2 separate regions of the Homo sapiens genome follow, and region 1 is linked to region 2. Evidence: fine-mapped expression QTL. A gene starts in region 2. The other region holds a variant in brackets. All regions are shown on one strand. Distances are between the middles of the regions.

Region 1 (5,373 bases), 94 kb before region 2:
GGTGGGTGGGCCCTACCTGGGCCCTCACAGGCAGGCGGGACATTGTCAGGCCCTGGGGAGGAGAGAGTCCGTGGGCCAGGAGGCCATTCCAAGGTCAGTTTCCATGGAGTGGGGGAGAGGGTGTAGTGACTGGACTCCAAGACACTTGGGGGAATGGGGAGAATGGCAGTCCCCACAGCTGCACGGGAAGGGCTGGTCCTCACAGAATAGCAGCAAAGACTCATTCATTCCAGGAATGGAAAGAATGCCATGTTCTTGGAGCCTGGAGACAGGGTTTGAGAGGCTGGCAGCGGCTGGGCCACCAGGACCTCATCAGTGATAACCCTGTGATCAGTGTTCCAGCCCCTGCAGGTTTCCTGGAGAGCAGAGTGTCGTCAGAAGGCCTGGAGCTGAGCCAACAGGCAAGATCCAGCCTGCACATGTGTTTAATTTGAACCACATGGTATTTTTTAAAACTCCAAGCCCCCAGGCTCTTGAGTTGGTTACCAGTACTGAAACTCCCCATTGGGAGCCAGCTTTCCAGTTTCTTTTGAAAGTTTGGAACATCCAGCAACACTGATTCAATTTCATTCATTCAGCAGATATTTATTAAGCATCTACTTTGTCAGACACTGTTTTGGGCACTGAAAATATGGCAGTGAACAAAAGAGAGGAACATCCCTGGGCCCTTGGAGTTGACCTTCCAGGGTCCCCCCGGGGCTCCAATTCTTTGGTGCTGTGTAGCAGAGGCCCCGTGAACAGGGCGCCCTCCCATCAGGTTCACACGCATGGAAGCTATGGGAGGTTAAGTTTGCAACCCCTCATCCAGACCATCCCTTCACATACAGTCTAGGAAACAGAGAGCAGTAAGACCTGCCCAAGCACACCCAGTGCGACTCAGCAGCCACACACAGGAGTAGGCTCAGTCATCTCATTTAATCGCCTGACTCCCTTGTGAGGTCTGTTTCAGGATGTCCACTTTCTAGGTGAGGAAGAGGAGGCTAAGGAAGGCAGTGCCTGCTCAGACTGCAGAGGCTGGATTCACCCAACTCATCTGACTCCAACACCAATGTGATTTCCAAGCCCCCAGGCAGGAATTCATTGGGCAAAGGCTCTGTGGCAAAGTGGCAAAAGTAGGCAGGAACAGGCAGGAATAGAGAGTGGGAAAGGGAAAATAATACCTGATTCCTCTTCTATTCCGAGTGAGCTGACCCACATATGCCCTCCTTTCTTCTTTTTCAGCCGGCCTTAAGCAGGTGGCTTATCAAAATCCTTTCGAGGTCTTGCAAAAACCAATCCCACACTCGAGAAGAACGTGCTGGCCGGTGAAATCGGACAACATTGCTCACGGGATGTAATTCAATGGTAGACTGCAGCCACAGCCTGAGAACTCAGACACCTGATTTATGAGACGCACATAAGTAACGTTTACCGAAGCCCAGCAAATGGCCCCACAGTGGGAGAGAAACTGGCAAACCCGTACAGTAGAATTCTGTTGCCCTTCTGTGGGGAAGGCCAGTTATTCATTTACAGAGGGAGAAATTTCTGCCTTGACTAAAAGGATCGATGCTGTGGGAAAAGGTAATATATCTGAGTTCCCATGGATCTGGTTGATAGGTTCACCTGGCGTGTTCCATATGGGGCCAGGCCCAGGCCACACCTGTGGTGCTAACACCTGGGGTGGAGGGAGGAATTAGCAAATAGTCTTCCAGCATCCCCAGCTCCAGCACCCATGTGGGCTTCCACTCTCTCCCTGAGAAGGGCCAAGTAGAAAGAGAGAACAAGGTTTCACTCCAATCCGTTCCCAGCTCTGGGTCTGTCCTGGGCTCCAGAACCGCGTGATCAGGGGCCATATGTGGCCTTCACTGCTCTCTGCAGTGGGAAGGTAAGAAAACTGCCCCCACCCTGCCCCATCATCACCCCAATCCATCATGGGGAGTGGGTGGCACTAAGGCCCTCCAAATCCCAGCCTCGGGGAAACTCCCTGATGTTGCAATGGCCACAGGCAGGCTCTTGCTCTCCGGAGATGAGTCACAAATTTGATGAGGAGCAGGTCGGAAGCAGCCCTGGAAAGTGTTCCTCCCCACCCCTGCTCCCACCACAGCTCCGAGGAGCCTGGGCATCCAACCAGGGCTGATCCAAGCCTTGGCTCCGGCTGAGCTCCGCTCTGGCCTCTGTGCACCTTCAGCTCCTTCCTGCCCTTCTCTTTCCCTGTGCCCAGCCCCTTTCTCCAGACCCCCTTGATTCCTTCTCAGCATCCTCTTGCCTCCCCGGACCACCCCCAGCTCAGGCCCCTGCCCAAGAAGGGCCTCACCGCGGGGCTGCAGAGTGCACAGTGCAGCCGGTCAGAGGTCCAGGTCTCTGAGTCACACATGCCACTGTTCCAGTCCTCACTCCACCACCGCATGGGCCTGGCCGACCACCGAAACTCGGCATCCCATCTGTAAAATGGGAATGAGGAGAGCAGTGCCTCACTGTGTCGTTGTGAAAATTAAGTGACCCAAAAGGACGGCCTTATTCCCTTTTTGGAAAGAGGTAATGGGCAAAGAAAGGGAAGGAAAGGCGAGAAAGGACAAGAGGAAGGTCAGAGATGTATGTGAGACACCAGGACAGCGCCACCCCAGCAAGCACCAACAACCATTTTCTCCTATGAGCAGAAGAGGCTTTAACTATGACTGAAATGAATGCATGTCAAAGCACAGTCTGAATAAAATCCCAAAAATGGTGTCCGTGTCACTCTCCTGGTTGTGATATGGCACGATCCTTGTGTAAGATGTTACTATTGGGGGAAACTGAGTAAAGAATAATGGGGCCGGGCACAGTGCTCATGCCTATAATCCCAGCACTTTGGGAGGCCGAGACAGGCAGATCACATGAGCCCAGGAGTTCAAAGACCAGCCCAGGCAACATGGTGAAACCCTGTCTCTAGTAAAAAT[A/G]CAAAAATTAGCCAGGCATGGGGGTGCACACCTGTAGTATCAGGTACTTGGGAGAATGTGGTGGGAAAATCAGTAGAGCCCAGGGTTCAAGGCTGCAGTGAGCCATGATTGTGCCATTGCACTCCAGCCTGGGCAATAAAGTGAGACCCTGTCTCAGAAAAAAAAAAAAAAAAAGAATGAGTACAAGGCATCTTTCTTATCACTGTATGCAAATCTACTAAAAACCTTAAAAAGAATGCATCATTAAGTTCAACCACTCTGCCTTACAGATGAAGAAACCAAGGTCCAGAGACAAGCAGACTTGTCCAAGGTCACCGAGTAAGCAGGGCTCCTGCTGAAGGGCTCTGTTCAGACCCAAGATGCCCGCTGGGCCCTGGTGACAGGTCTCAGTCTCAGGCTGAGGTCAGAGAAGAGGCCTGAGTGCCAGGGTTCTCATTTGAGTGGCCATGATGATTGCAGAGACTCCCTATGGCCAGGATTGTGTTTAAGGCAGTAAACAGGAAGCCAAGCCTACTTTTCAGGAGCTTCAGGGGACAGAAAACTATCAGGAAGGATTGGTTGGGACCCAGCAAGTACGAGAGGAAGACATTTCAGGGCTTCAGTCAACAAGGGGCTCAGTGTACTGTAGCTGCCAAAATAGCTGCCAGCTCTCAGCTGCATTCAAAGGAGTATAGCCTCTAAAATGAGGAAGGTCATATTCCCTTAATTTAGCACTGGACAGGGTCCATTAGGAGTATTGTGTCCAGCTCTTGGCTGATTCCAAAGACAGGGATCAGACTGGTGAGAGGATGCAACAGCACACCCTCCAGACACATGGCGGCAGAGGGCTTACCACAGAAGATAAGACTTATGTGGAGAGAGGAACAAATGCACTTAGTGTTACCCCAAAGGGACCAAAGAGAAAAAAATCCTGAGAAACACTTTCTGTCTTAATTTAAGGATGGGCTCTTTGACAGGCAGAGCTGTCCCATGATAGAACTGATGGCCCTCAATGACGTGGGTTCCTGGTCTCTGGAGGAGCCCAGCGAAGCTGCAGGATCTCTTGGCAGGAGGCTGCAACAAGAATCCAGGAAGCATCTACTGCACACTCACCCTTGAGGAGCTCACTGCATGTAAGGGAGGCAGAAAAGAAAAGAGATCATTCCTCAGTGTGAGATGTCTCGTCATGGGGTGACGAAGTCTGCTGCAAGGAGTTCCAGAAGGAAAGGGGGTTCCTTGAGCTGGATCTTAAAGTTAAGTAGGACAATGAGAGTGTTGGCCACCTGCAACTTTTCCCTCACGCGAGTTCTCAGCCAACAAAATCAAGGGCTGGAAGATGTATGCCAATCCCAAGGAGTGACTGTTGTCCTCTGGGCCATGTGAGTCAGTGAAGACTGAACAAGGAAGTGGCATGTTTGGAACTGCATTTCAGAGAGATCACTTTCACTAGAATATGGATGATGGCTTGCACAGTGTATCAGTTATCTATGTTGCATAAAAAACCACTCCCACACTTAGTGGTTTAAAACAACCACCTCAACTCATAATTCTGTAATTGGCCATTTGGGCTGGGTTTAGCCGGGTGGTTCTTCTACTGGTCTTGGCTGGGCTTACTCATGAATCTGTGATCAACAGCCAGGCAGCTATCACTCTGCTTCTGGAGAATGGGCAGGAGGCTGCAGCAAGCACAAGGCCAACATCAGATGGAATTAAAACCCACTGATGGGGCCGAGAGTGGTGGCTCACACCTGTAATCCCAGCACTTTGGGAGGCCAAGGACGTCAGGAGTTCAAAACCAGCCTGGTCAACATGGTAAAACCCCATCTCTACTAAAAATACAAAAATTAGCTGGTCATGGTGGTGCATGCCTGTAGTCCCAGCTACTCGGGAGGCTGAGGCAGGAGAATGGCTTGAACCTGGGAGATGGAGGTTGCAGTGAGCCGAGATTGCACCACTGCCCTCCAGCCTGGGTGACAGAATGAGACTCCATCTTAAAAAAAAAAACCAAAAAAAAAACCCCACTGATGGGTTAGGTGAAATTATGGCAGACTAGGGAGTACTCCAGTCCTGACCTCCACAATCTAAGACAGAATCAGAGCAGCTTCTTCATTCATGGCTTTGTGTGTCCAACACTTACTGAGTGACCAATACATGGCATGTAAAAGTAAAATTGTAAAAGTAAAATATAAAATCCCACCTTCAGTGAGTTCACAGGATGTGAAAAAGCTCATCATGCCCATTTTATAGATGGAAAAACTGAGGCCCAGAATGCTTTGCCCCAAGACAGAGCAACTTCGTCAGTGTGAGGTCTGGGATCAAGTGCCAGCTCTTCTACTCTGAGTACTGTAGCCCAACACAGTGCTCCCTAGAAAATGGTTCCTGAGCAGCTTGTCTTTTGAATAGAAGTGCCATTTGGTCAATGTTGATTTGGGGTTGGGAGCTGGTGAAGGGCAGAAAATTCTTCTTCCTCATTCTTCTG
Region 2 (5,373 bases):
AATCAGAACTCTGAACAGCTGTATCTAAGGGTCACACTAAGATTTATCCTAACCATCAACACAGCACATGAAAATAAATCAGCAACAGCAAATGTTTACTGGATGCTTTGACATTATCATTTTAGTTTACAAAACCCGCCCATCAAGAACAAAACATCATCCTCAGATTAAGTTTAGTAATAAATCATTTTGCCAATGATTCTGAACTCAAACTATAAAATTCAAATATCACTACCTCTGATTTCCCATAAGGACTAAATAAAACCTCACAAATGAAAGTGCCTAGTACAATGCCTGACATAAATACATACTCAATAAACATTAACTGCCTTTCTTTTGATCTTAGGCCATGTGATGTAATACTTGCTAGATGTGTGATGGGGCAAACTGCTTAACTCCATCTGTAAAATGGAAATATTAATGCCCACCTTATAGGGTTAAAGTCATTAAAGGATAATGCATACAAAGCCCTTCCACCCACAAAAGGCATTAATAAATCCTGAACCCTCTTTTTTCAAGATAACCTATTCATAACTGTATCAAAAGTATAGAATCATGGGTTGTTGAATTCAAAAATATCCTTCAGAATCCCTATCTTTTGGAAGAATTACAGGAATACAATACCATAAGACGGACGACACAGAGATGAAGTGTGTGCTCCATTAGTGTTTACTGAACTCAGGTGAATTGCTAAGTCCATTATCACTCGGCTAATTGTGGCGGTCTGGAGAGTCTCTCCAGGGGTAGGACTCTCACCTCCTGGTGAGCGACTGGGTCTTACTGCTCTCAAACCAGGGCTCTTTCCACTATCTTGTGTCCTCTCCCTAGTTTATGTCAGGTACATACTGATAAAATTATATACTGATTTATAGTCTCTAGCACAAATTCGCTTAAGGGTCATAATAAGGTATTTCCATAATTTAAGATTTTCTGTGGCTAAGGAAGTAAGGGTTGGGCAAAGGGTAGAAGTCACTCTATTCCTGTCAAACCCAAAAGTGAATATACTTTAAGTAAAATGCTATGCATTGAACACACAAATGCAGGTACGACTGCATGTGGTGAGTCGAAATTCAGATGAAGCACCTGTATAGCAATGAGTGAATTCACAGCCTCTAGATGACAAGTAGAAGGCAGGTTTTAAAATGTCTGAAAATTGCAACTTCAGCGCTTTTGCAACACCTGCTTTTACGATCTGTCACGTGGAGCAAAGAGGCATAACTCAACAGCACTACTAGGGCCAGACGACCATTCACAGGCTGGATACACAAACCTATCTTGTAAACATATAATCAAGCAAAAGCAGGCAAACCGGCACAAGAGGCCTTCACCTAACTTTCTTCCAGATGGCAAACGCTGCACGATGACAAACAAGGCAAACATGGTGCGCAAGCAGCCAACCCAAAACAAATAACTAGGGATTCTGACATCCAAAGGTCCTCTTCATCCTTAATCCTTCCAGAATGTCATCCCACAAGGCAGGGTTTGTTTGCCACAAAACCCTGCGGCCCCTCACATCCCGAGGGACAGTTCTGGTCACCTCCTCCCACGGACCTATTGAGCCTGCTTCACAGACCCCCGAAGCACTGACTCAATTATTCCCACAGTGTAGATTCCATTACATCTGTTAAAGTTTCCGGAACACGTGATTTAGGAGAGCAAACTTGTTAGAAACAGATTAAACAACACTCTAACACATTTCTCTGAGCCGTGTCACACTCGGGTCCAAACAATTCCCAAGGAGGGACTGACTGTCACCAATCTTGGATGGCACTGGTTCAAAGCGCCCTAAAGAGGGGAGCGAGCCCCGCCCGGCTCGCCGCCGGCAGCTCTTACCCATTTGTCCAAGGGGACCTGGGCGAGGGACCCGGTGCCTTGGTACAGGTCCAGGCTGAGCTGCTCCAGGCTCAGCTTCTCCTGCAGAAAGTGGCCCAGGTACCTCTGCAGGAGGTACCGGCAGGCCCTCTTCTTGATGGACTCCGAAAACGGCCAAGGCATAGTGACTGCTGGCAGCTGGGCTGACTGCGGCTGCGGGTTGCGACGGCTCCGGCCTCGGGGTAGCGACTCCGGCTCCAGGCCGCGGCGGGGCCTAAGCCTGGGGCGGCCCCTCCATCCCTATTTGGTGCCGGGAGTCCCTCAGGGAGACCCCATCGCCGGCGCCGCACCGCTCGCGCTGGGCCTGGCGGAGGCAAGACGCAGAGGGGTCCTCCTGGCCCCAGGCCAGGGGACTTCCGAGGAGGGTCCCAACCGGCTCGGAGAGAGTGCAAGAGAGCGCGAGAGGAGGCGGCAGGGGCTGAGGCAGCCACCGCCACTGCCGCCGCGCGACGAATTTGTTGTCATCCGCGAGGCGCGTTCCCGGCTGTAGGGACGCTCCTGGCGCGTTCACGAGACCCAGACTCCCGGCGCGCCGCCGGGCGCTGGCGGAAGTGACGCCACACTGGGGCCGCGGAAGGCGGGCAGAAGGGCGGGGGCTGGAGCAGTTCCGGCTCCGAGGGGGCGGGGCGGAAGAAGGCGGGGAGGGAGGGGGCGGCACCGCCGGTCGGCTCCAGTCGCCTCCGGAGGAAGGAAGAAGAGGACGCCGGGCGCGCAGGTGAGCGGCAGCCGGGGTGGCTGCGGGCGAGGGGCGGCCCCCGAGAAGGGCTAGGGGCTCGGGGCGCCGGCGGGCCGTCAGGCCTTCCGGATGGGGACGCGACGCCATGCAGCTGGCTGGGCCGAGAGGGGCGGCAGGCTGCAGGGGCCCCGCGCCCGTGTTAAGAGGGGTCTGGGGGCCGGTCTGGCCGGCCTGGCTCTCCCGGCTCCCCTCAGACCTCGGCGCCCCGGAAACGCACACTTGGGGCTCCGCCGTCTCCGCTGGGAGGACTGGAGCCCTTCTCGAGCATCCCCGCCCGCACCCGAGCATTGACCGGTGCCCATTGTCAGCAAGTTCTTCGGCCCCCGCCTCATTCAGGTATTGTTTCTGAGGCAGCTTCTTCGTTGCCGTTTGCCTGGCGGTTTGCAGAGCGCTTCTCGCATACGCTCGCTTAATCCTGGGTGTGTCATAGCAACGATCAGGAAACTTGGGTTTTCGAAGCATCTGTGGGCAAAACTGCATTCCTTGAGAAATGCTAAAGGCTCCTGACCCCGCCGGAACCTGGGTGAAGAACTTGGGCTGTTCTGGCAGTCTGCGCAATCGTATTTCTGCCTTTTGGGAGGTAACTCCTGCAGAGGCGGAGCCGGCTGTTAAGTTAAGTCAACCTCGAAAGGCCTGGGTGCGGGTGTTCTATGGCCCAGAAGCCAGATGTCCTTCGTTAGAATCCCGGCACTGACACCTATTAGCCGCCCAGCCACTTTGAGCGGCCACTGCCCTCCCCGAGCCCACGTTGCCTCCTTTGCCGAGTGTGAGCGGATTAAAATCTTATGTGCATGGATTTGTTGGGAAGATTAAATGATATGAGTAGGGCACGAACCTGAACAGAGTCCTGAAACATACAGCTGTTTAATCACAGTGAATTAAGACGACCAGTTTAAGGAGTGAAATGTTTACTGTCTCGGCAACTTTCATGAATGCCTTGGAAATACAGCCCAAAATATTGGTAGATGGAGAAACATCTGGTTCCCCTTTCCACAACCACCTTTTCGTTTTAGAACCAGGGTACTTTGTATGCAGTTGCTTGGATTGTTGATTTCCCTCATTCTTTGTAGACTCATCTCAAGTATTCTCAGTAACTTAGATTCCCTTGCTCTTCATTCAGAAATATTTGTTAAGGTCCATTAAATGAAAGTCACCACAGTTGATCATGTGAACAGTGTCAAGAATCAGGCCGAACCTTCAAGGAGTTTATGTTCTAAAACGGAAGCATGGTGGTACCTGCTTGTGGAGGCTGAGGCGGAAGGATCGCTTGAGCCCAGGACTTTGAGGCTGCATAATTGCATTGACGCTATCCATAGAGTGCCTGCAATTTCAAATATCAGAAAGGATCGTACGAGCTATGATCATGCCACTGCACTCCAGCCTGAACCACAGAGCAAGACCCTTTCTCTCAATAAAGTGGAAGTTTGTTCATTTATTCAGTAAATATTTATTGATTGCCTTCTGTGTGCCAAGCACTGTTCTAGGTACTGGGATTACAGCAGTGAACAGATAAATCTCTTCCTTCCTGGAACTTACATTTTATTGAAGGGAGGAGACATACAATAAATGAGTGAATAATATGCTTTGTGGTGATAAGGGCTGTTGGAAAAACGAAAGCAATGTAAAGGGAGTGGAGATGGGGAAGAGAGAAGGGACTTGCCATTTTTATATGAGATGGTAAGAGAAATTCTCTTGTTTAATAAGATTACATTTTAGCAGAAACTTGGAGAAAGCTGGGAAGTGAGGCACATGTATACCTGGAAGAGTTGTTTTCCATGCAAGGGGAACAGCAAGTGCAACGCCCTGTCACGGGAGAATGCTTGATGAATTTAGGGAACATCAAGAGTGAGTGAAGGAAAAAGTAGAAGCTGGGCAGTTTGGGGGTGGGGGGTGGGGCGGGCGGGGCGCAGAGGAAGCACATCATGTAGGGCCTCGTAGGCCATTGATAAGAACTTTGGAGCCGGGCACAGTGGCTCACTCCTGTAATCCCAGAACTTTTGGGAGGCCGAGGTGGGCGGATCACTTGAGGTCAGGAGTTCAAGACTAGCATGGCCAACATGGTGAAACCCTGTCTTTACCAAAAATATATAAAAAATCAGTCAGGTGTGATGGCGTGCACCTGTAATCCCAGCTACTTGGGAGGCTGAGGCAGGAGAATTGCTTGAACCCGAGAGGCGGAGGTTGCAGTGAGCCGAGATTGTGCCACTGCACTCCAGCCTGGGCAACAGAGTGAGACTCTATCTTAAAAAAATAAAAAGAACTTTGGCCTTTACTCTGGGTGAGGTGGATTTAGGAGAGGAGTGACACAGTATGGCCTAAGTTTCTATGGGATCATGCTAACTGCTGTTAAGAATAGTCTGGTGTGGAAGTGGGAGGGCCAGAGTGAAAACAGCAGAACCAGTTAGAAGGATATCACCGTAATGCAAGGAAAAGATGACAGTGGTTTGGACCAAAGCGGTAGCGGTGAAAATGATTAGTTAGAAGCAGTTGGATTCTGGATATATTTTGAAGATAAGACATGTTTGTAAATAATAATTCTAATATTTGCCATAAAAGGAATACAAACAAGGTGGTATGAAAAGGCAAAGGTGGGATCTTGCAAGAAATTAGAATAGGCTTTGGAAGGTTTGAAATAGACTTCTGACAAATAGATACAATTTGGACTTCTTTCAGCAGTTATTAAATAAGTGGTTTCCTTTTTCAATATAGAATTGCATTCGGGCTATCCATAGAGTGCCTGCAATTTCAAATATCAGAAAGGAAAA

The links. PIP is the estimated chance that this variant, and not a neighbour inherited with it, causes the effect.
Region 1: its variant is fine-mapped to the expression of GSKIP in whole blood (INTERVAL, PIP 0.99).

Annotation. Positions count from the first base shown.
Region 1 is chr14:96,267,209-96,272,581 of GRCh38, forward strand. BDKRB1-AS1 (BDKRB1 antisense RNA 1) reads right to left here and starts at 1,372. Exons shown (of 2, transcript XR_007064322.1): 1 at 1,161-1,372. RefSeq lists an enhancer at 1,447-2,646. The variant A/G (reference allele first, on the strand shown) is at 2,916.
Region 2 is chr14:96,360,982-96,366,354 of GRCh38, forward strand. GSKIP (GSK3B interacting protein) reads left to right here and starts at 2,545. Exons shown (of 4, transcript NM_016472.5): 1 at 2,545-2,587. It overlaps ATG2B (autophagy related 2B), which reads right to left and starts at 2,360. Exons shown (of 42, transcript NM_018036.7): 1 at 1,834-2,360. The coding sequence starts at 1,995. RefSeq lists enhancers at 920-989, 2,231-2,525, 2,446-3,266 and a silencer at 2,468-2,817.